Regions from separate parts of the Homo sapiens genome. Here all the other regions are reported to be linked to region 1. The links are microRNA targets in miRTarBase. Many come from high-throughput screens and were not tested one by one. Region 1 holds a microRNA gene; each other region holds the end of a gene's coding sequence.

What was found. Region 1 holds the annotated microRNA hsa-miR-3616-5p (AUGAAGUGCACUCAUGAUAUGU, at 3,452-3,473, shown strand). A microRNA usually pairs through its seed, bases 2 to 8, with sites in the 3' UTR of a target mRNA and lowers its output. Matches are read on the target gene's strand: a 7mer-m8 pairs with bases 2 to 8, a 7mer-A1 pairs with bases 2 to 7 and ends in A, and an 8mer does both.
Region 2: the mRNA of BTBD19 is a reported target of hsa-miR-3616-5p. Seed matches in the 3' UTR shown: 8mer at 2,166-2,173.
Region 3: the mRNA of GPR137C is a reported target of hsa-miR-3616-5p. Seed matches in the 3' UTR shown: 7mer-A1 at 2,777-2,783.
Region 4: miRTarBase lists HNRNPA0 as a target of hsa-miR-3616-5p. Seed matches in the 3' UTR shown: 7mer-A1 at 3,301-3,307 and 7mer-m8 at 1,735-1,741.

The regions. Positions count from the first base shown.
Region 1 is chr20:47,163,534-47,169,595 of GRCh38, forward strand. It overlaps MIR3616 (microRNA 3616), which reads left to right and starts at 3,434; the gene lies at 3,434-3,525. It overlaps EYA2 (EYA transcriptional coactivator and phosphatase 2), which reads left to right. Exons shown (of 16, transcript NM_005244.5): 11 at 5,606-5,664.
Region 2 is chr1:44,812,461-44,818,522 of GRCh38, forward strand. It overlaps BTBD19 (BTB domain containing 19), which reads left to right. Exons shown (of 8, transcript NM_001136537.3): 5 at 536-604; 6 at 678-809; 7 at 914-1,039; 8 at 1,178-3,125. The coding sequence ends at 1,312. Among named protein-coding and RNA genes, the nearest start is that of BTBD19, 7.0 kb to the left of the region's middle. RefSeq lists a silencer at 1,459-1,528.
Region 3 is chr14:52,633,303-52,639,364 of GRCh38, reverse strand. It overlaps GPR137C (G protein-coupled receptor 137C), which reads right to left. Exons shown (of 7, transcript NM_001099652.2): 5 at 5,710-5,835; 6 at 5,419-5,537; 7 at 1,652-4,427. The coding sequence ends at 4,250. Among named protein-coding and RNA genes, the nearest start is that of ERO1A, 59 kb to the left of the region's middle.
Region 4 is chr5:137,749,010-137,755,071 of GRCh38, forward strand. It overlaps HNRNPA0 (heterogeneous nuclear ribonucleoprotein A0), which reads right to left and starts at 5,354. Exons shown (of 1, transcript NM_006805.4): 1 at 1-5,354. The coding sequence starts at 5,057. The coding sequence ends at 4,140. RefSeq lists enhancers at 4,013-4,704, 4,114-4,273, 4,784-5,133, 5,395-6,062 and a silencer at 5,714-6,062.

The DNA of each region.
Region 1 (6,062 bases):
ACTAAAAATACAAAATTAGCTGGGCGTGGTGGTGCATGCCTGTAATCCCAGCTACTCAGAAGGCTGAGGCAGGAGAATTGCTTGAACCTGGGAGGAAGAGGTTGCAGTGAGCCGAGACTGCACCATTACACTCCAGCCTGGGCAACAAGAGCAAAACACTGTCTCAAAAAAAAAAAAAAAAAAAAAAAAATCCACCTCCTTTTTCTGCACTGCTGGGTAGGATTCCACTGAATGGATATACCACATTTTATTTAGCTACGACCTCATCAAGGGAACTTTAGGTGTTTTCCAGTTTCTCACCAGGATGATGGACATTTTTACACAAGGCTCTTTGCAGGTGTTACTCTGGGTCAGAAAGTAAAAATCCCTCGAGACGGGGATTGCACCAGGTCCCGGTCCTCAGCCCCACTGCACTTCACCTGTGTCAAGGCCACGGGAACCCTTCCACCGTCTCTGCCAGCAGATGCCATTCAGCACCCACCCCAAGATACTCATACTTTGACCCGGAAGAGACCAGAAGCACCCTGCAGTTCGTGTGGACAAGTCTCCCCTCTGACTTACAGTCCCCTCACCCTCGTACCTAGGAGAGGGATGGCAGCGCTGAGGGTCGTGGGATTCTCTTCCCTGGAGGCTCCCCCATCCTCGTGGCCTCTGCGCGGTCCAGCTCCCCTCCGAGCTGGCTCAAGGGGTAACTTGATCCAGGTCAGCTGGTGGAGTATGAGGTAGCGTCTAGCTGAGCGTCACGGTATTTTATTAAGTCCGAAATGTGATTGCTACTGTTGTCACACTTTAGCGCCCCCAACAATCCCCTTACAAATGAGAAAAACAGAGCCTCCCCAAATGCCTTTCCTCTGACATCAAGGAAAGCGCATGGAACCCTGCCCAGAGGCCTGAGCCCGGGTGACCCCAGGAGTGGCTCCAGAGCTTGAGGAAAGGCCTGGGGGGCGGAGGGGGTGTTTTTCCAGTTTCAGGCAAAGCAGTGAGCTGGGGGCTATCTGCTGTTTCCTCTGCGCCTGGGTCTGTAAAGTCAGCGGTTGCCGTTTAAATCCCATTTTCCTTAACATGTCAGGATTGCTCATTCTAGGCCATCCATTTATATGGCCATGGCTCAGAGGTCTCAGACTCACATGCCTAGGGGGGTCAAGGATCCAGGTAACGTAAACTGAAGCAAGCCCCGTAGAGATGGTGGGAAACTGTAAATGGATGCCCTGGCTGAAGGAGGTAGCTGAAAATCTGGAGAGAGAACAAGAACAAGAAGAGAAAGGGAAGAGGAGGCAGAGAGAAAAGAGAGAGGACATCCCCCAAGTTTACATATTGCCCATTGCTTCAAAAAAATTTAAACATGCAATGAGCTAAGTAGATATGTCTCCAGGCCAGTTTGCAGGCTCTTCCCTAACTGAACTTATCAACACAGTAGACAAGCTGCCGGCCTGGCTCCCTCACCCCTCTAGAGCAGCGCTGTCCAGTAGAGATTTCTGCAATGATAAAATATCTGCAGCGTTCACTGCAATAACCACTGGCTACATGTAGCTCTTGAGCACTTGAAGTAGGACTAAAGAACTGAACCTTTAATGTTATTTAACTTTACTGAATTTCAATATAACTATAACTAGCCACAGGCAACTAATTGCTACCATATTAGACAACATGGCTCTAGATTCTTTCAATGTGGAGGGTATCATCGTGCTTGACTACTGCAAAAAAGATCACTCCTTCTTGGGGAGAGGGGGTAGATTATACCTGAGACCACCAAGCATTAATCAGAGTCCTGGGTAAATGGAAAGAAAGGAAATTCGAAATACTGAGCAGTAAAAGCTTAGGTGTAACCAGATGTCTGCTGGCTCAAGAGTGGTCACTCAGTGTCCTTCCACTCCCCCACTTCCCAGTGAGTTTCTCATTCAGGGTCACCCTTTAGCATCCACTGTGTTCTTGGCCATCTGCTTACTCCCATTTGCCCAGAGCTGACCCCTAGGAAGCCACCTGGGGGTACTTCCCTGCTGCCGTTGGTCTCCAGGCCTTAAGAGCACACCACTGTCCAAACCCAGGGTGCTGCCCGTGGGTCACAGAGGTGCAAGGTCCTATGCAGAGGCGAGAACGGCAGTTGCACTTTGTCACCTGCCACAAAGTTGCTGTGCCTGGGCCCATGTGTGTCAAGGACTCTGGAAACAAGCCTCACCTTTCATCAAAACCCTTTCTAATCTGAGGCCCTTTCAAGGGGCTGGAGAGGGACCAGCAGCCACACTACCCCCTTGCCAACCCCTCTCTCAGATTCCAGCCCAGCTCCCCACAGGGCAACCCAGGCTGCCCCAGATGCCACTGACCCCTCTCTTGCCTCCCTAAACATCACCATAACAACAAGACTACCTTACGTATCTTTTAAAAATTAATGAGGAGGCCTGTAATTCTACCACTTTGGGAGGCCACAGCGGGAGGATCACTTGAGCCCAGAAATTCAAGACCAGCCTGGGCAACATATTGAGACCCTATCTCTATTTTTCAAAAAAAGAAAAAAAATGAATGAGGCAGGGGCTTCCCACCATCCCCCTGCAAAGCTTATATTCTCAAAGATAAATTCAAGCCTTTTGGCCAGGCACGGTGGCTCATGCCTGCAATCTTAGCACTTCGGGAGGCCAAGACTAGAGGATCTCTTGAGGCCAGGAGTTTGAGACCAGCCTGGCCAACATAGCAAAACCTCATCTCTACTCAAAATACAAAAATTAGCTAGGCATGGTGGCACACACCTGTAGTCCCAACTACTCGAGAGGCTGAGGCTTGAGAATCACCTAAACCTGGGAGGTGGTGGCAGTGAACTGAGATTGTGCCACTGCACTCCAGCTTGGGTGACAGAGCAAGACTGTCTAAAAAAAAAAAAAAAAAAAAAAAAAAAAAAAAAAAAAAGCTTTTTGCTTGTCCAATTGTCTAAAAAGAGATCTGTTCAAAATGTTGCAAATACCCTTTCTTCCAATTTCTCTACTCCCATCAAGGTTCCAGAGATGTTACAACCAATTTTTTCTCAGTAGTCAAGCTCAGAGTCCCACGTGCTTCTCCTCCTCCAGCAGCCTTTGTAAGGAGGCAGCTGCCTCGAGAAATCACCTTGCAACTAAACTGTGGGAAAATGTGTAAGATCTTAACACAGTGGTAGAAACTAACATGTATGCAGTAGCCACTGTGCACCCGACACTGTTCTCGGTGCTCTCATGCAGCATCTCGCTTCTCCTCACCTCATCTGGAGGTGGGTTCAGTTATCAGGTCCATTTATCAGTCAGGCCTCTGGGGTTCATGAGGGTCATGCCCCTCACTCAAGGTCACACACTGGGAAGCGGTTGGATCCAGGATCCAGGCCCAGGCAGTCAGATTCCAGAGCCTGCACCCTGAACCAGTACCGCAGGGGCTGGCACCCCCGCACATTTTTTGCCCCATCAACATATTATCATGTCACTCCGCCAGCATCATGAAGTGCACTCATGATATGTTTGCCCCATCAGCGTGTCACGAGGGCATTTCATGATGCAGGCGGGGTTGGCAGGTGTGCATCGTGTAGGCTCCACATGGGACATGGCATCCCTTACGACTCTTGGCTGCAAAGTGCCAGAAACCCAGCTCCACTCACTTAATCTGAAAAGTGGGTGTATTTGTTCGCCAGGGCTGCTGTAACAAATTTCCCCCAGTTACTGGCTTCGAACAACACACACGTGTCCTCTTACAGTTCTGGAGGTCAGGCTCTGAGAGGAGAATCGGTTTTTTTACTTTTTTTTTTTTTTTTTTTGAGACAGAGTCTCGCTCTGTCGCCCAGGCTGGCGTGCAGTGGTGTGATCTCAGCTCACTGCAGCCTCCTGCCTCCCAGGTTCAAGCTATTCTCGTGCCTCAGCCTCCCAAGTAGCTGGGACCACAGATGTGCACCACCATGCCCAGCTAATTTTTTGTATTTTTAGTAGAGGTGGGGTTTCTCCATGTTGGCCAGGCTGGTCTCAAACTCCTGGCCTCAAGTGATCCACCCGCCTCAGCCTCCCAAAATGCTGAGATTACAGGTGTAAGCCACCACACCTGGCCCTTTGGTTTTTTGTTTGTTTTAGTTTTTCTTTCAGTGGCCACTTGTGTATGTTGACTGTGGTCTCTTCTTCCATCTTCAAAGCACATGACTCCAGTCACCCTCTCCTTTCTGTCATCAGATCACTGTCTCTCTTACAGGGACCCATGTGATTCCATTTAGGGCCCACCCCGACAGCCAAGGAAAAACTTCCCACCTCAAGATCTCTAACTGAACTAAAGTCCTGATTGCCATTTAAAGTAATAGATTTGCAGGTTCCGAGATAAGAATGTGCGCATCTTTGGGGGTTCGTTATTCGGCCCAGCACAGTCAGGGATGGCTCAGCTTCAGTCCTGACTGGATCCAGGGGATCAGATCGCATGCTCATGGCATCCCCCTCTCCAGCTCGCAGCCCTGCTTTCCTCAGCAGCTCCCGGCTTAATCCACCATTCAGCAGCCCCAGGGAAGAGACAGCACCTCTTCCAAAAGTGCCAGCCAACGTCCCCGGGCTGGTTCCCATTGGCCCACCTTAGACCACATGTTCATCCTTGAAGCAATCACTGTGGCCAGGGGGACCTTGGGTCCCTCTGATTGGTTTTCATTGTCCCCACCCCGTAGTCTTTTGTTTTTTTGTTTTTTTGTTTTTTTTGAGACAGAGTCTTGCTCTGTCATGCAGGCTGGAGCACAGTGGCGCGATCTCGGCTCACTACAACCTCCACTTGCTGGGTTCAAGCAGTTCTCCTGCCTCAGCCTCCCGAGTAGCTGGGATTACAGGCAGCTGCCACCACGCCCAGCTAATTTGTGTATTTTAGTAGAGACAGGGTTTCATCATGTTGGCCAGGCTGGTCTCAAACTCCTGACCTCAAACAATCCACCCGCCTGTCTCCCACAGTGCTAGGATTACAGGCATGAGCCACCATGCCCAGCCTCCACCCCATGGTCTTGTCCCACAGAGAGAGGTGTTTCCCCAAGGAAACTGAGTGGGAAACAGCATGGCATTGGAGTTTGTTCAATGGCAAGCCCTGGGGATAGTGCCTGGCACATAGTAAGTGCTCAGTAAATGATGATCACAGATCATGAGGCACAGCAGGTGTCCCTCCAGGAGCCAATACTTGAAGAGCACAGGGTTTACTAAGCAGATGTAGGCAGGAGAGCATTTCAAGCAGGGGGAACACCTTTAGCGAGGCAGAGGTGTCCACCATATGGCCAGGGTGACCAAATGTCTGGCCATACTTGGGAAGCTGGGGACCTAGGGGAGTCCTGGTTTGAACCTATCCCCCTAGTATAATACCATCCCCCTTTAATGCAAAACTCTCTCTGTTTGGAGAGTATCTGTATGGTCACTTTCCTTGCAGTCAACCTGCTCATTTATAAGGAAACCAAACAGACAAAGAGGATGAGATTGAACCCAAGGACCTCTAACCTTGAGTATCCAAATCCAGACTAGAACCCGAGCCTGATGACTCCCAGTGCAGTGCTCATCCCAGCCCTCAGCTTATGAGGCCAACCCTTGAAGGCTACATCAGATTAACCAGGCATGTTCTCTCTCTCTCTCTCTCTCTGTCAAATTTTCCATAGGATTGTGACCAGATCCACGTTGATGACGTCTCATCAGATGACAATGGCCAAGATTTAAGGTGGGAATTTGGGGAGTCAAAAATGCCCATTGATTGATTGATTGATTATCAAGTTATCCTTCTACTAGGAAGTGGGGTGGGAGAGGAGGGCTGCTTATAAGGACAAGGAGTGCCTGCCTCCAGCCAGAACTGGGACTTTTGCATCTCAGACTCAAAAATCACAACTAGGCGGGTGTGGTGGCTCATACTTGTAATCCCAGCACTTTGGGAGGTCTTAGCAGGAGGATCACTTGAGCTCAGGAGTTCAAAACCAGCCTGAGCAACATAGTGAGACCCCCATCTCTACTATAATAAATAAATGAGTAAAAATTTGTTTAAAAAATCACAACCTCACCCCTCAACCCTACAGTCTCTTGCTCATCACCTCAAATCACTAAACTCTGCTCATTTATTGCTAT
Region 2 (6,062 bases), not on the chromosome of region 1:
TTTTGGAGGCCGAGGCGGGCGGATCAAGAGGTCAGGAGATCGAGACCATCCTGGCTAACACGGTGAAACCCTGTCTCTATTAAAAATACAGAAAATTAGCCTGGTGTGGTGGCATGCTCCCAGCTACTCTGGAGGCTGAGGCAGGAGAATCGCTTGAACCCGGGAGGCAGAGGTTGCAGTGAGCCGAGATTGCGCCACTGCACACTCCAGCCTGGGCAACAGAGTGAGACTCTGCCTCAAAAAAAATCAAGCCTAGGTCCCAGGTGGGGTTTGAAGGCCATGGCGTGGTCTCCTGTAGGGAAGAGCAGGTTGTAGAGTGAGTCCACGTGTGTGTGTGTGTGTGTGTGTGTGTGTGTGTGTGTGTGTGTGTGTGTGTGTAGCAGGCTTTCATTGGGTCTAGTTTCCTGGAGGGCTGAGGGCCCTGTCAGCCTCCCCAGCTAGGGCTAGGGTCAGGCTTGCAGTGGTGGGTCCCAGTGAGCAGGCTGGGCTACGGCCTCTCCAGTCTCCAACCTGATCTCCCTCATTCTGCTCGCAGGTGGCCGTAACCTTTGGCCTGGGGCAGCTGCAGGAGCGCTGCGTGGCTTTCATAGAGGCCCACAGCCAGGTACTGCTCCCTTCATACTCCTCACCCTACGCACCGCATTCTGCTCCTCCCTGACCCATTTGCCGGCTCGCAGGAGGCCCTCCGGACCCGAGGCTTCCTGGAGCTGTCGGCGGCCGCGCTGCTGCCCCTGCTCCGCAGCGACAAGCTCTGCGTGGACGAGGCTGAACTGGTCCGCGCGGCCCGAAGCTGGGCGCGCGTGGGCGCGGTGAGTGGGGCTGGGGGAGCGCAAGGGCACGGAAGGAGGTGCTGGCCACGAGACTGGTGAGCGGGCGGCAGGACAGGTGCCCGACTCAGGGCTGGCGTTTGCAGGCGGTGCTGGAGCGGCCGGTGGCTGAGGTGGCGGCCCCGGTGGTGAAAGAGCTGAGACTAGCCTTGCTGGCCCCGGCGGAGCTGAGCGCCCTGGAAGAGCAGAACCGGCAGGAACCACTCATCCCGGTGGGGACGCGGGGAACCGGCCCAGCTCCACTCAGCAGGGGGTACAGGGCGCTGGGAGGGGGCAGGAGCAGCCCGGCCCACGGTCCTCGGGGCGAGGGGCCACCGCGGGACTGCGCACTAACTGGCCTTGCTCTGCAGGTGGAGCAGATTGTGGAGGCGTGGAAATGCCATGCCCTGCGGAGAGGGGATGAGGCCCGGGGCGCCCCGTGTCGCCGCCGGAGAGGCACCCTGCCCCGGGAGCATCACCGCTTTCTGGACCTGTCCTTCAAATGATCCAACGCCGGGACTCGCAGGGAGCCCTCGACCCGCCCAGCTGAGCCTGCCCCAAACTACAGCTCCCGAAGTGCTCGGCGTTCGGAGCGGGCTTCCGTTCCCAGCGTGCCCAGTGAGCCGGGCGCCGGAAGAACCGTTGTCTGCCACGCGCAGCCCCTTGTGCGGGATCAAGCCCGTGTGGGCGAGGTGGGGTCGGGCCGGGCAGGGCTTGGGCTGGGCCTCCCTGAGGGGGTGAAACTCGAAAACGAGGATTTCCTTCGTTCCACACCCTGACTCTACGCCCTGCCCCTGGGCATTGTCGTCTACTAGTCTATTCTGATGACTCCCACATATCTATCTGTTCAGCTCAGCTCCCTCTTTCTTTTCTTTTTCTTTCTCTTTCTTTCTTTCTTTCTTTCTTTCTTTCTTTCTTTCTTTCTTTCTTTCTTTCTTTCTTTCTTTTTCTTTCTTTCTCTTTCCTTCCTTCCTTCCTTCCTTCCTTCTTTCTTTCTCTTTCTCTATCTCTTTCTTTCTTTCTTTCTTTCTCTCCTCTCTCTTTTTTTTGAGACGGAGTCTCGCACTCTCGCCCAGGCCGGAGGGCAGTGGTGCCATCTCGGCTCACTGCAAGCTCCGCCTCCCGGGTTCACGCCGTTCTCCTGCCTCAGCCTCCGGAGTAGCTGGTACTACAGGCGCCCATCACCACGCCCGGCTAATTTTTTTGAATTTTTAGTAGAGACGGAGTTTCACCGTATTAGCCAGGATGGTCTCGATCTCCTGACCTTGTGATCCGCCCGCCTCGGCCTTTTTTTTTTTTTTTTTGAGACAGAGTCTTGCTCTGTCGTCGAGGCTGGAGTGTAGTGGTGCGATTTCGGCTCACTTCAAACTCCGCCTCCCGGGTTCAAGCGATTCTCGTGCCTCAGCCTCCTGAGTAGCTGGGATTACAGACATGCACCACAACGCCCGGCTAATTGTTGTATTTTTAGTAGAGACGGGGGTTTCACCATGTTGGCCAGGTTGGTCTCGAACTCCTGACTTCATGTGATCCGCCAGCCTCGGCCTCCCAAAGTGCTGGGATTACAGGTGTGCGCCACCATGCCCGGCCTCAGCTCCTTCTTTCATTCCAGACCTGCCCCCCTGGAGATCGCTCCCTGAATGCCCCTCAGACACCACAGGCTCGGCGAGAAATTGATCTCCCCAGCTTTTCCCCAGCTCTGCCCCCATCGTGTTTCTCATTTCCGTGGACACCCACGCCAGAAACCTGGATCTCATCCTTGCCTTATCGCTCTTCACACCTGCCTTAGGTCTCTTTTTACCTTGTAAGAGACCTTAAGAGACCTTTCCAGTTGGTTCAGTTCTCTCAGCCCCAGGTTCAACCTGTCCTGTCTGACACGTCTCACAGCCTTCCTGCCTTCACTCCAGCGCCCCCTCAATCCATTTCCCACAGTGCAGCCAGACCTGTTTTTGATTGTCAGTCCTATGGGGCTTAAGTCCTGGAACATCCCATTGACCTCCAGGACAAAATTCAATCTATTTCACTTTCAGGGCACTCAAAACTACTAGTGAGTGGTTCCTCACCTCTTCTCTCAAATACAATCTTTGTATAAATTCATTTATCCTGGAGGTATTAGTCCTCTAGCTCCATACCTTACTCAGTTACTGCAGACCCCTCTGCTACCTCCTTCATTCACTATACATCTTGTTTTCCCGAGGATGTGAATCTCCCTCAAGAAAGATCCCTGGGGCCTGGAGTGGTGTCTTACTCGTTTCTGCTTCCTCAGTCTCTGTCAGATAATCAGTGCTATGTAAATGTTAAGTAAATGACTTTATTTATTTATTTATGACACAACCTTATTCTCACCCAGGCTGGAGTGCAGTGGTGCAATCTCGGCTCACTGCAGCCTCAGCCTCCCAGGCTCAAGTGATCTTCCCACTTCAGCCTGCTGAATAGCTGGGACTACAGGCATGTTCCATCACATTCGGCTAACTTTTTTTTTTCTTTTTGTAGAGATGAGGTCTCCCTACGTTGCCCGGGCTGTTCTCAAACTCCTGGGCTCAAGCAATGGTCCCACTCCGTCCTCCCAAAGTGCTGGGATTACAGGCATGAAGCACCACCACACCCAGCCTATTTCCTCATTTAAATGCCACTTTATTCCATGAAGAGTTTTAAAGGAGCTGCAAAGCAAGATACTGTCAATCTAAAATGAGAGACAGTTGACTATTTAGAAGAAAATAAAGTTAGATTTCTATCTCAGGGACTTCATACAAAAATATATTGTACAGGAGGCCAGGCACCGTGGCTCACGCCTGTAATCCTAGAACTTTGCGAGGCCGAGGTGGGTGGTTCGCCTGAGCTCAGGAGTTCGGGATCAGCCTGGGCAACATGGCAAAACCCTGTCTCTAAAATACAAAAAACTAGCCAGGTGTGGTGGCACATGCCCGTAATCCCAGCTACTTGGGAGGCTGAGGCACGAGAATTGCTTGAATCTGGGAGGCGGAGGTTGCAGTGAGCTGAGATTGTGCTACTGCACTCAGCCTAGGCAACAGAGTGAGACTCTGTCTCAAAAAAAAAAAAAAAAATATATATATATATATGTATATATATATATACACACACACACACACACACACACATAGATGTGTGTGTATATTATATATACACATAGATGTGTGTGTATATTATATATACACATAGATGTGTGTGTATATTATATATACACATAGATGTGTGTGTATATTATATATACACATAGATGTGAGTATATTATATATACACATAGATGTGTGTATATTATATATACACATAGATGTGTGTATATATTATATATACACATAGATGTGTGTGTATATATATACACATAGATGTGTGTGTATATTATATATACACATAGATGTGTGTGTATATTATATATACACATAGATGTGTGTGTATATTATATATACACATAGATGTGTGTGTATATTATATATACACATAGATGTGTGTGTATATTATATATACACATAGATGTGTGTGTATATTATATATACACATAGATGTGTGTGTATATTATATATACACATAGATGTGTGTGTATATTATATATACACATAGATGTGTGTGTATATTATATATACACATAGATGTGTGTGTATATTATATATACACATAGATGTGTGTGTATATTATATATACACATAGATGTGTGTGTATATATATTGCACAGGGATTAAAGATAGTTATTTAGCATTATCTCTCGACAGAAAATGTGCTTACTCAGTAGTACATGGCAGCATTGATTGGATAGTGGAAATTGAAAATCATCTATACGTCCATTACCAGAGGACTGGTTATATTAACTATGGTATATTCCTGTAATATTTAAAAAATCCATGATCTTTGGTGAAAAAAGCACAGAATAGACCAATTACAGCATGATTCCTCTTGTTAAAAGAAAAAAGGTAGCATAGTGATTAAGAGCGTGTCTCCTGGAGCCAGAATGCTTGCATTTGAATCCCAGCTCCGCCACATATTTTCTTTGTGATTAACCTTTCTTTGCCTCAGCTTCCTTATTTATAAAATGGAGATAATGGAACCTATTTAGTAGAGTTTTTAGGAAGATGAAAATAATTTCATAAAATACTTAGAATTGTAGTGGGACAGATTAAATTCTGTATATGTGTTTAGAAAACATATTCATTCATTTGTTCCACAACTATTCATTGAGTGCTCACACACTAGACATTGATTTACGGTCATGGAATAAGTACATCAGACAACAAGTCAAGTCAAGTCTTTGCCTCATGGAGCTAACATTCTAAGAGGAGAAACATGCAGTAAACAAGTAAAGAAATGTATGCTCTATTCAGGGAGTAGTTTGTGCTATGAGGAAAAGCAAAACAGGTTGAAGAGATAGCTATGTGGTGGGAGTGGGACTATTTCGTACAGGGCACTGATTGTAGACCTCTGATGAGATAACATTTGACAAGAGATCTGCAGGGAGCTATGTGTCATGGGGGAAGGCATTGGAGGGTTTTGTGCAGGACAGTGATGTGTGATCAGATTTAGTTTAAAAGAATAATTTGGGCTGGGCATGGTGGTTCCTGCCTGTAATCCCAGCACTTTGGGAGGGTGAGGTGGGCGAATCACTTGAATCTGGGAGTTTGATACCAGTTCGGGCAACATGGCGAAATCCCGTCTCTACAAAAAATACAAAAATTAGCCAGTGTGGTGGCACGCGCCTGCAGTCCCAGCTACTTGGGAGGCTGAGGTGGGAGAATTGCTTGGATCTGGGAGGTGGAGGTTGCAGTGAACTCAGATTGCGCCACTGCACTCCAGCCTGAGATTGTGCCACTGCACTCCAGCCACTGCACTCCAGGAAGACCCTCTCAGAAAAAAAAAAAAAAGAATTTGGCCGTTATGTGGAGGACTGGAATTGAGAAGGGCAAGAGCGAGGTAGAAGAGTGGTCTAGGGAGAACAGTTAGGGGCTATTGCAATTATCCAGCAAGAGATCTTGGACCAGGATGGCAGCAGTGGAGGTGGTAAAATGTGGTTGGATGAAGCGTACGCTTTGAAGGTATCAACAGGACCAGCTGATGGAAGGGAGTCAACAGGACTAGCTGATGGCTGTAAACTGGGGGGTCACTAGCTATCAGATGGCATTTACTTAAAGCCATGGAAGTAGGTGAGCTCCCTTATGGAGAGGGAATAGGAAGGAGGTAGACCATTCTATCAAAATGCTCTTTCTACAGGGCACTTCTCACTGAGATATTATTTATCTGGGATTTATATTA
Region 3 (6,062 bases), not on the chromosome of region 1:
GCAGTGGTTTGTAGTTCTCCTTGAAGAGGTCCAGAGATATAGATCAATGGAACAGAACAGAGCCCTCAGAAATAACGCCGCATATCTACAACTATCTGATCTTTGACAAACCTGAGAAAAACAAGCAATGGGAAAAGGATTCCCTATTTAATAAATGGTGCTGGGAAAACTGGCTAGCCATATGTAGAAAGCTGAAAATGGCTCCCTTCCTTACACCTTATACAAAAATTAATTCAAGATGGATTAAAGACTTAAACGTTAGACCCAAAACCATAAAAACCCTAGAAGAAAACCTAGGCATTACCATTCAGGACATAGGCATGGGCAAGGACTTCATGTCTAAAACACCAAAAGCAATGGCAACAAAAGCCAAAATTGACAAATGGGATCTAATTAAACTAAAGAGCTTCTGCACAGCAAAAGAAACTACCATCAGAGTGAACAGGCAACCTACAAAATGGGAGAAAATTTTCGCAACCTACTCATCTGACAAAGGCTAATATCCAGAATCTACAATGAACTCAAACAAATTTACAAGAAAAAAACAAACAACCCCATCAAAAAGTGGGTGAAGGACATGAACAGACACTTCTCAAAAGAAGACATTTATGCAGCCAAAAAACACATGAAAAAATGCTCACCATCACTGGCCATCAGAGAAATGCAAATCAAAACCACAATGAGACACCATCTCACACCAGTTAGAATGGCAATCATTAAAAAGTCAGGAAACAACAGGTGCTGGAGAGGATGTGGAGAAATAGGAACACTTTTACACTGTTGGTGGGACTGTAAACTAGTTCAACCATTGTGGAAGTCAGTGTGGCGATTCCTCAGGGATCTAGAACTAGAAATACCATTTGACCCAGCCATCCCATTACTGGGTATATACCCAAAGGACTATAAATCATGCTGCTATAAAGACACATGCACACGTACATTTAATGCGGCACTATCCACAATAGCAAAGACTTGGAAGCAACCCAAATGTCCAACAATGATAGACTGGATTAAGAAAATGTGGCACATATACACCATGGAATACTATGCAGCCATAAAAAATGATGAGTTCATGTCCTTTGTAGGGACATGGATGAAATTGGAAATAATCATTCTCAGTAAACTATCGCAAGAACAAAAAACCAAACACTGCATGTTCTCACTCATAGGTGGGAATTGAACAATGAGAACACATGGACACAGGAAGGGGAACATCACACTCTGGGGACTGTTGTGGGGTGGGGGGAGGGGGGAGGGATAGCTTTAGGAGATATACCTAATGCTAAATGATGAGTTAATGGGTGCAGCACACCAGCATGGCACATGTATACATATGTAACTAACCTGCACATTGTGCACATGTACCCTAAAACTTAAAGTATTAAAAAAAAACCCTTAAAAAATAAAAATAAAAATGTTGTACTATCTAATAACGTATTGGCATTTTAAACTGCATGGCACTTCATGTCAAACTGGTGTATGTGGAGCAATATGACATCCAGATGTAAGTAATTATGAGATCACTAAAGGCGAACTATCATTTGTAACTCCTGATTTTTTTTTTTTTTGTGGTAGCACTATGTTCTTATTCTTATATGATAGAAACTCAGTATAGTCCATTATAAGAGATGAAGAAAACCAGAACTCTAAATAAAAGCACAAACACTTTTATTTTTAATAGTAGTGTTTTGTTACAATTTAGTGAAACAACAAATAAATACATTCATTGGCCACAGCTATACTTTTACAACCAGTTTGAAACTGATTATATAGCTGAGAAACACTGTTAAACAATAAAAAAGGCAGCTATGCATAAAAAAGCCACTTTAGCTATAAATTACATTTTCCATAAAACTACAACCAACTACAATGAGTGGTAAAGGTTTCAAAATTAATGGCCACCCAAGTGAAATGATGAAAACAAATACTGCTAATCACTATAGAATTACACACTTAAGTAATGAAATTCACTTTTTAATGAACAAAAATGAAGGTTTGATACTGTCATCATGTGCTTCAGTGCAGGATGAACAGGGAATCGGTAGCCCTTTGATTTTATAAACAACTCCTTTCGAGACCAAACTTAAAGTGCTCCTAGTGCTTTGGAATTTTTAAGCAAAGATTGGGCCAGAGTGTATCTTTATTTGTCTTTGGTGATATGTTAGATGTGTATAAGGAGACAAATGCAAGAATTTGGGTACCCTAGTCAGTGATAAGAATAAACTTACAAACCTCAAATTTGGAACAATCAACTAATGCAGCAGAAAGAACCAAGTTATTTTATCTGAAAAATTTTTAAAAAGTAATCTTTGTTAGTTTGGTCAAATAGGAACATTATCGAGGGGAGCCTTACTAGAAAAACTTTATCACCTTGAACCCCAAGGATTAACAAAGACAACATATCTTTTTGGACAGCTCTAGATGATTAGATGCCTAACATTATTAGCAAAATAAACAGTTAGCATTCTGAGAAGCAATCTAACAACTGGAGTTGTAATAAAAGTACGCTTTTGTCACTTAATACCACGGGTAACTTTTTATACTATACATTTTAAAATAATTTGGTTACAATGAGAGAATTATAAACAAACCCAAAATAACATAAGTATATGCTTCTGATTGAATACAAAGTCATTTTGTATCATAAAAAGAAGAAATTTATTTGTCTGTGTACTGGCCTCCCAAAAGATCGAAAGCATTAACAATTTCAATTTTTCCTTAAGGTTTCAACCTAGTGTTATACTTTTATGAAGTTATTGTATCAGTTGTTAAAAAGTTGAAGTACATTTTAAGTAAGCGAGGAAATAACATTCTAATCAAAGTATAAAACAGAAAAGGATAGTCGTATTAGTTCCAGTTCTGAAGAAATAGCTAGCAGACAATTGTAGTTTGTCTTTGAGCATGTTGTGACAACTTCCCAATGTTGCTTGTTCCCTTGGCATCTTGAGGTATTCAGCATCTACTTCTTTCCATATAGACACTGGTACAAAGTGCATTTTAAAATTCTGTATTATCTCAGCCTGCCATTTTCTTTTTTTTTAGATTTGGGATAGGACATTTAAGACAGTTTTAATGTAATTCTAAAAGTACTCCAATATTGTTAACCTGTGGTTTTATACTTACCTAGTTTGTACATTTACTTAAGTTTGCTCATTTAGTCTAATGCTGGAATTAATCTGAATTCAATTTAATTTGGCTTTTCCCATATATAAGATATAAAAATGTGAAAATCATAGGAATTATATGTCTTACAAAGTATTGCACTTGAGTTCACTGCAATAATGTATCATGATTTCATTTACCTGAGGACAATCCTGATTCACTAGGTAAGACCAGCTATATCATGCTTCAGAGAAATCAAATGCTTTTGAAAATATATTTATGTTTTAATTTAGAATTACACATTTTGTGAATAATTCTTAAATGCATCTCTAAACTTGTTTAGTCCCAAGAAGTTTCTACCAAAATCTCCCTATGCAAAAGTCACTATTGCTTTCTTCAAGAATCATGCTTAAACTACTACATATATCTCAATTACACAAAATAATCAACTGACCAATTCTACTCAAAATAGCCACACAATTTTCACTGGTATATTTTCCTCTTGAAATTATTGTGGCTCTCCAAAGAACACTGCTGGCCATAACTAATGGATTACTACCATCATTTGTTTAAAATGATTGAATTTCAGTTGCTATTTTAAAATCATGCTTAAAAGAACTGTCTTCAATGATTACACATTTTCAGTAGATTTTTATAAAGAATGATACATTTTTATGCCTTAACTCTGTGCACTGTTCACACTATAAAATTTTTATTAAGATATCTGTATAGAGCATACCAATGAATATACCGGCTTTGATTTTCATAGGAAAATTGCCTTCCAGTTTGGTGTACAATACAGTATTTCAGTGTGAACATTGGCATATGACTTTGGGGACTGCAGTGACTCAGAACAAAGATAAAAGTGCACATATGCATTTGATGTTCCAAAGTCAGGATTTTTGGAGGCCATCAAGTGCCTTAAGATCTAATCTCTCTTTTCTCCTACTCCAAACTTTCCATTTTACTTCATTTTACTATGAAGAGGTCAAAAATAATAGCTGTGTTATTTACCAAACACAGCCACACTTCCAGATTTTGTTTTCAGTTGCAACAGATAATGGAATGTTTATGTAGATGGAATTTAAACACATTGAATATACACATTTATGAAAAACAACTCAAGAATCATGACTTGGTGATGCTGTCAGTTTTGTGGTGTCACATATAAGCTATGATGATTGTTCAAATCTAAATTACTACAAGTAAAGAGCAAAGGAGCAGTATCTGTCATAGGTCCATTCAGGTGGGGAGTGACTGTGTAACTGCTGCTGCCACACCCAGTCATGGTGCCATACCAGCCCAAACTTTGCGAATTTGGTAAACTGCAACAAAAAAAAGGCAAAAAGACCATAGGACTATGATCAGGATATAAGAAGTCACATTTGAATTTTTAGCATTTTCAATGAATTTTGTAATAAAGTTAGCACTCAAATACATTGAAATATGTTCTTTGTCAAATAACAAAATGCTTTTCTACAAATTTAATGACTTTTATCTAATATCCTGGATTCTATATCGCAGTATGTTACAAAAGAATGAATAAATGCCACTCAGAACTGGTAGAACTTGATTGTCAGATGACAACAATGTAGTCCTTATGTACTCAGCTCTATTCTAAGACATCTATGTATGTATGTATGTATGTATGCAGACACACATATACATTCATTTCTCACAACAAACCTCTGAAATAGGTTCTATTATCCCTGTCTTACAGATGAAAAGCAGGTTCAAAAAACTGAGGTTATATAACTTGCCCAGATGAAGTTAGGATTACAGAAAATGTCATATCAAGCTGAAGCCATTATGCTTCATGGCTTCAGCCATTAAGCTTTCCTCTTTGCCCGAATCACAGTCAATAGTGTACTAGTTACGGACTTGAAATGGTTTTGTAACAAGGAGGGCATGGGAACATTTCCTATGGCAATTAAGCTTCCCAAGAGTTTTATCTAGGGTTTCTCTGGATTTTGACCAGCACTAAAGATATGGAAACAGACATATAATCACTATAATAGTATTTCTTCCTTGTGCATCCCCCTCCCACAAACAGCTCTGAACCAACAAGTGATCCCGAAATGAAATGGTACCATTTTAGCCAAAAGGCATATAGGCTTTGAGTCAAATGGTAGTTCCTGATAATGCAGGTCCCACCCTGGGTTTAACATCTACTGCTTTAAACTCCAGTATTGCCGATCTTATTTATTGACATATTACCACTAAATCACCTTTTTTCATATTTTGGTTAAAGCTTAGATTTGTTTTTTTCAATCAATTTCAATAGTAATTCAGGCTAAGTGGCTTTGTTACATCTACCTTCCTTCTCTTGAACTTCCCAGTCTTGGCAGGTCATCATCACTATCATATCGTCTTGGATTGTCGAAAAAGTAAGCTCTGGAACTATAACTGTGACTATTTATCATGCCAGCAGGTGCCTGTGAACAAAGTATTAGATAGCATATGAAGGTTTTACTTTTCCACTAAGAAAGGAGGCTAGAATCTATAATAATTTTTAGTCTTAACCTTTGCCAAAAATAGAAAATCAATATAAATGTTCCATAATTTTTAAAAATAGGAGAACAGGCATTGGGGAATATTATATCATACCAAATTCTGGTTTAATCTCTGTGCCCGGAAAAACAGTACCACCGACCATGCTGGCACATGTTCCCACAGAAAGAGGACCATTCCAAATACTATATACTCTTCTCCACTTATGTCTTCTACATGAGCCTGTAAATAGAGCATGGCAGAGAATTTTTACATCTGTTTATTGTATAAGCAATCACCTCCACAGTTAACTTGTTTCAAGTCAGGTAAGATAAAATATATCAACTACAAGCACATAAACTCTAAAACTTTCTATATTTTGTGGTTTCTCATGAAATGACACTTATCCTTTAAAGGACATAAAATGCTTTGAAGCTACAAAAAATAAAAAGCAGTTAATTTTTTCAATG
Region 4 (6,062 bases), not on the chromosome of region 1:
CAACCAGAACGCAAGGTATATGAAGACAGCAACCATGTTTGTCTCACTGCTGTGTACCTCCACATTATAGAACTGTCTTACACAAAGGTGCCTAACACCCAATGAAATTGACGGTAAACACTGGGAAATAAGCACACTGTTTAAATGGCAAAAGTTTACACTTGAGAACTTTATAGCAGGAAATGATAGCTATTTCAGATAGATTTTTTAAGTAAACCATACAAAGTGGTAAAAGAATTAAAGAGACAAAGAAAGCCTGCCTGAATAGAGAAGGAAACAGTTAAGAATAACTACCAAAGGTGTCTTCCTGAATCCTTTCCCTCTCTGAAGGTTCAAATCATCTGGCTTCAAATCAAAGTAAAAAAAATAGGTGGAAAATAGAGAATTGCCCTTCTAGTCTTCCTACTTTGGAATTCCTTTTTAAATAGCAGCTTTCAAATATCTTTTTATAATAAATGTTTTACCTTGTAACATTTAAATTCTCATTCAAGGCAAATATGAAGTTCACTCAAAAGCAGGACAGCTAAGGAGTTATTTGACTAGGCAGTCTTTGTTGCTGTTTCAAAAGGCCAAAATAAGGCTGAGGAGGAAAATTTCCCCAATGATCACTCTTAAAGTGATTCAATAAATTGGTTACGATGGAGAAAGACACTTAGCCTAAGTGCAAGTGCTGTCTTTTTGGGTAAAATCCGTGTAGTCTAGATGCAGTTCTGCTCCAAATCCAACATCCAAATGCCTATCTGCAATCAGCAGACGCGGGCAGACAAAATTTAACCTAAAATGCAAACTCTCAAAACTTAAGCACACTTAAAAGGTAAACTAAGTTTACAAATCCAATAACTGATACCATCACTTCTGGTTTTGAAGGAAATCATAAATGCAAATTTCTCAAGTATCCTCAATCTTTTAGGTTTACTTAAAAATTATGAAAATTAGATTTGAATATGAAACGTTCCAAATCACTAAGTTAAAAATGGATGAATGGGTACAATCAGTATAGTCATTCTGATTTGATAGTTATCACTGTGAACCTTAACCACTTGCAGGCTTTTTTTTGGATACAGTAAATCAGTACCAATGAGAGCTTTTTAAATGACCTGAAAAACACTACAGATATTCCAATCAAAAAATCTAAAATGCTCCAAAATCCGAAATTTTTTGAGTGCAGACATGACATTCAAAGGAAATGCTCATTGAAGCAGTTTGGATTTTACATTTTTGTATGAGAGCTGCTCAGCTGGTAAACATAATGGAAATATTCAAAAATTGAAAAAAATCTAAAACTCAAAACACTTCTGGGCCCAAGAATTTCAGATAAGGAATACTCAACCTGTATCATCTCTAACAGCCTTTCAAACCACTTTCAACTAATGACTACTGAATTTATACTTTTAAAAGAATGTAAATGCCAAAGATCTTCACATTAAGATGAAAAATAGGAGGTTCACTTTTATTTTGCTAATCCGTCAAAATACATTCAAGCATGGCACAAAAATTATATTCAACACTAGGTTCTGTACCACCTGCTCCCATGAACTCTTAAATCTGAATAATGTTCAGATAATTTTCATAGGTGGAAGTGGTCAAAACATACAACCAATTGTCCCTCCTCCCCAAGTCCCACATGCCAAAATGTTTGCATATAAACTGACAAGAGGAACCCAGAAGTGACTAAATACCACTATGCTTTTTTCTTCACTACAAATAGCAATTTTAAGGGTAGACACATGACAATGAAGTGTTAATATACCATGAACAGAACAGGTTGCCTTCCTAATACACAGAAAATCCTTTTACATAATTCATTTGCAAACTTTAGAAGCCACTATATTCCCATGTTGGGAATAATATGACAACCTTATTAAACTGAAAACCCTGAGAAAGGTGTACTATTCCAATTGACCCAGATCTTCCCACCAAAACTGAGTAAGTCAAGCAGAGTAGTATTTAACAATTACAACGAAAAATTTCAGAGAATCATTTTCTGTATCCTAGAGGCCACTCTACAGCCACCAAAAAGCTGGACCAAATTACCAAATGAAGTAGCCCACATGTAATTTGTGTATCACTAGAATTAAAAAATAAGACAGAAATGTATGGAAAGTGTACAACTATTTGAGAGCAAAGGATTTGACTATGTATTACCTCAATGTGTAAAAACATCCACCCCGTTTGTCATAGAGGATATAACACTATTTGTACCAACCATCCGCTACCCTTTGTCAAAATGACTACTGAGCAGCTATAACCTAGCCTAATAATCTTAACCTTTCTTCTTACTTCTTTAAAAGCCCTGCCAATCAGGAAAAAAAAAAAAAAAACTGGCAAGAACTAGACCTTAGGAATTGAACAGTGACAAGAAGTTAAAAAATGGTTCAATATTAAAATATTATTTTATTTTAAAGCCCAATCTTTCAGAAAGCTTCTTAGTATAGCTTTGAGCCTTCAACGTCAACATGTAAGTCAAATATTTAAGTTAAATATTAACATCAAGTTAAGCATACTAGATTAAAAGGTACTCTGAACCCACCCACCAGGTTATACATACTCTCACTCAATCATGTAAAGAATTGAATTCTTTATTTGTGATATCCATAAACGTTGCTATTCTCTATTTCTATCCAGAAAGGCAATTTTCACCTATTATCACTTTTGTTCTTCTCTTATAAACAACAACTTGAATGCTATTGCAGGAAAGGGCTACAAATATACATTTGTTAACCAAGCAGAATACACAGATATTTTGCTTTACAACTTGCACCTAAAATACCAGTATACGTAGCTGGTTCATTAGTTGTCATAGCAATTTAGGGCTATTGCCCAAGCTATGCATAGCAGTTTACATTTTCAAACCTCATATAGAAAGGGCTATTGTGATATGAACTGGCAACTACATTCCTGTGAAGCCCATCTCAGTTACAAGCAAATGTGTTAACTTCCAATTCTGCAAAGAATTTTGATGGCAAAACTTCCAAATCTGATGCAATTGTCTTAAGCAAGTTTTTAAACAAATTGTTTCGCAGCTACTCTGCCATTCTGCCAGTAGATGGTGCTACAAAGATCGGGAAAGGGATTTCCATGAGGCCAACAGTTCGGATATAGGAAAAAAAAAAAAAAAACGTTTAAACCTGCTCTGAAAGTACAAAAACGCATTTGAGGGTAAAATATAACCCTTATTTTTAACCATTCATTACAGACAAACCAGTAAGAGGGATGAAACTAGGCCATCTGAAAAATTTTAAACAGTTTATATGAATGACATGCTTAACACAAACTATATAGAACTACACAGTACACAGTTTGAAGTAAATTGTCATAGAAATGACCAACCATGTCAAGATGATAAACAATTCGCTTAGTACAAGAGATGGATGCACAGAAACTTAAGAGTTTAAAAAGCCACATCCACCACTTCAAAAGTTTTGCCTGTAAGGGATATAATTCAACACGCAACTAGCAGGGCAACAGGAGAGGGGAAAAAAACCACAGGACCTCTTAAGTTTCTCTAAGTACACATCAAGAATAAAGAATTAACACGTAAAGTCTTAAACAAATATCCCTTAAAAAACGGTACGGAATGGATCCTAGAAAAAAAATGTTAGACATGTACGGTCAAACACAATGATTTATTAAAAATAAAACGTAAAAATGATTTTTGTACATATGCTTCCAAATTTCAGGCATGGGATCCAAGTAGATTTCATAGAAAACGCTGTAGCCAGGTTATCAAGTCCTTACAACAAAGTAAACTACCCCCCACCCCAACCCCCACCCAGGTTTTGCTACAGAATCAGCAAGTTCACTCCCTCCCTCCCCCCAAAAAACACAAATTAAAACAAGACATTTTGCTAGTATAAAAACGACCAAGGTCCAAGTAATAATAAAAAAATAGAGTCCATCAATGACTGTAACACAAAAATGTGTATGTGGGGCCGAGTCCATCTTCAGAGGGAGAGACAAGAGAGGTGGCAGGCAAATAGAGGAACACCCCCAAGGGTAAGCAGCCTTAGAAGTGGCTCCCCCAAGGGCAAAACAGGGAAGGCGGTGTGTGTGAGGGGGTGGGGCTTAGGAGTTGACCCCACTTGGGCTGTTGGAAAGAGCTACCCCTATAGCCACTCCCAGGCATTTTAAATTTTCTTTTAGAAGGAGCTGCCTCCATAGCCACCCCCACCGCCATAGCCGCCTCTGTAAGGTCCACTATTACTGCGACCGCCCCAGCTACTGCCTCCACCGCCGCCGCCGCCGCCGCTCTTCATGGGCCCATAGGAGGACTGATGCTGGCTGTAGCTGCCGAAGCCGCCGAAGCCGTTACCGTAGTCGCTCCCACCGTAGGACGAACCGCCGCCGCCGCCTCCGTAGGCATTGTAGCCGCCGCCTCCGCCGCCGCCGTAACCACCGTAGCTGTTGTAACCGCCGCCGCCGCCCTTGGAAAGGCCGTTCTGGTCTCGACCACCGCCGCGCCCCCGGCCGCCTCGGCCGCCCCGGGAGGATCGGGAGCCGCCTCCACCCCCACCGGAGTAGATATCCTCCTTGGGGACTGCTTTCTTCACCTCCACGCGATGGCCCTGAATCGGATGGAACTTGACCACCGCGGCCTTGTCTGCCGCGTCGTGATTCTGGAAATACACGAAGCCGAATCCACGCTTCTTGCCGGACTGCTTGTCGGCAATAATCTCGGCCTTTTCCACGGTGCCAAACTGCGAGAAGTGCTCGATCAGGTCGCCCTCAGCCACGTCTCCTTTAAGGCCTCCGACAAAGAGCTTCTTAACCTTGGCGTGGGCACCGGGCCGCGCCGAATCCTCCCGGGACACCGCCCGCTTCAGCTCCACAGTGTTGCCGTCCACGGCATGGGGCGAGGCGGCCATGGCGGCGTCCGCCTCCTCCACATTGGAGTAGGTCACGAAGCCAAAGCAACGGGAGCGCTTGGTCTGGGGATTCACCACCACCACGCAGTCCGTCAGAGTCCCAAAGGCCTCAAAGTGGCCGCGCAGGCCCGACTCACTCGTCTGCACATTGAGGCCGCCGATGAACAGCTTACACAACTGAGAATTCTCCATCTCCAAGGCCCGGGCCTTGCCCCCGCCCTGCGAGCTCCGAGGTTTCGCCGTCGCCGCCGTTATCGTTGGTTAAGGCCTCTACACAGCTTGGGCCCAGCCGTTGCTGGAGCCACCCCCGCCGCTCACCGACGGGGAAGGGAAAAAGGGAAGGGGAGGGAAGGAAGGAAGAGAGGAAGGGGGAGGGAAGGGGAGCGGTGCCGGCTAAAGGGCGAGCCGAGGAGACTGGAAGACAACCAAGGCCACCGCTACCGCCGCCGCCGCCACCTCCGCTCCCCTATCTGGGCACCACACAAAGAGGCCGCTGAACGCGCGCGCACCCTCCCCGAGGCGTGCGTCACCGCCGACGTACGGCAGCCTAGGGCTACCAGCCAATCCCCGCCTCGCTCCCCTTAATCCCGCCTACCGCGCCGCAGCGCCGCTCTAGATCACGGACTCCCCGCCCTCCGCGGTCTATTCAAGCCCGCGGCCTGTGCCGCTCCCGCTTCCGCTTCTGCCAGCCCACTTTCATTCCCGAGCGCCCCACTGTCCCTTGACATGGGTCCCTCCCTGCCCTCCGCGCACCACCGCGATTCATTTCCTCCTAGCACCGCGGCTGTTCCCAGTGTTTCTCCCCCTCCCCTTTACTCATCCCCTCGCCCAACTCCGCAGTGGCGTTCGCGCCAGCCCCTTGAGAGACATCTGAGTTCAGCCAATCACCGTGATCCCCTCGCACCCACTTCCGTTTTCGGCAGCTGTTGGACGGGCGCGCTCCCCGGTGCGCGCTTGCCCCGGCGCCCCCGGCGTGCAGAGCCGGCCTACCACCCCCGCGCCTTCTCCCGCCCAGGGCTTTGCCGGGGAGAGAGCAGGGGGCGCGCTGGGGGCCATTCCCAACGGATGCGGTCTGGGGCGCCACGCGCGGGCTTTTTGAAAACTTGACTGTTGGGGTTGGGGGCCCGGATCTACCCGCCGCCTCTCCGCTTGTCCGCTACACCTGGCGTCCCCGCCCCACCTCCCGCCCGCACAAAG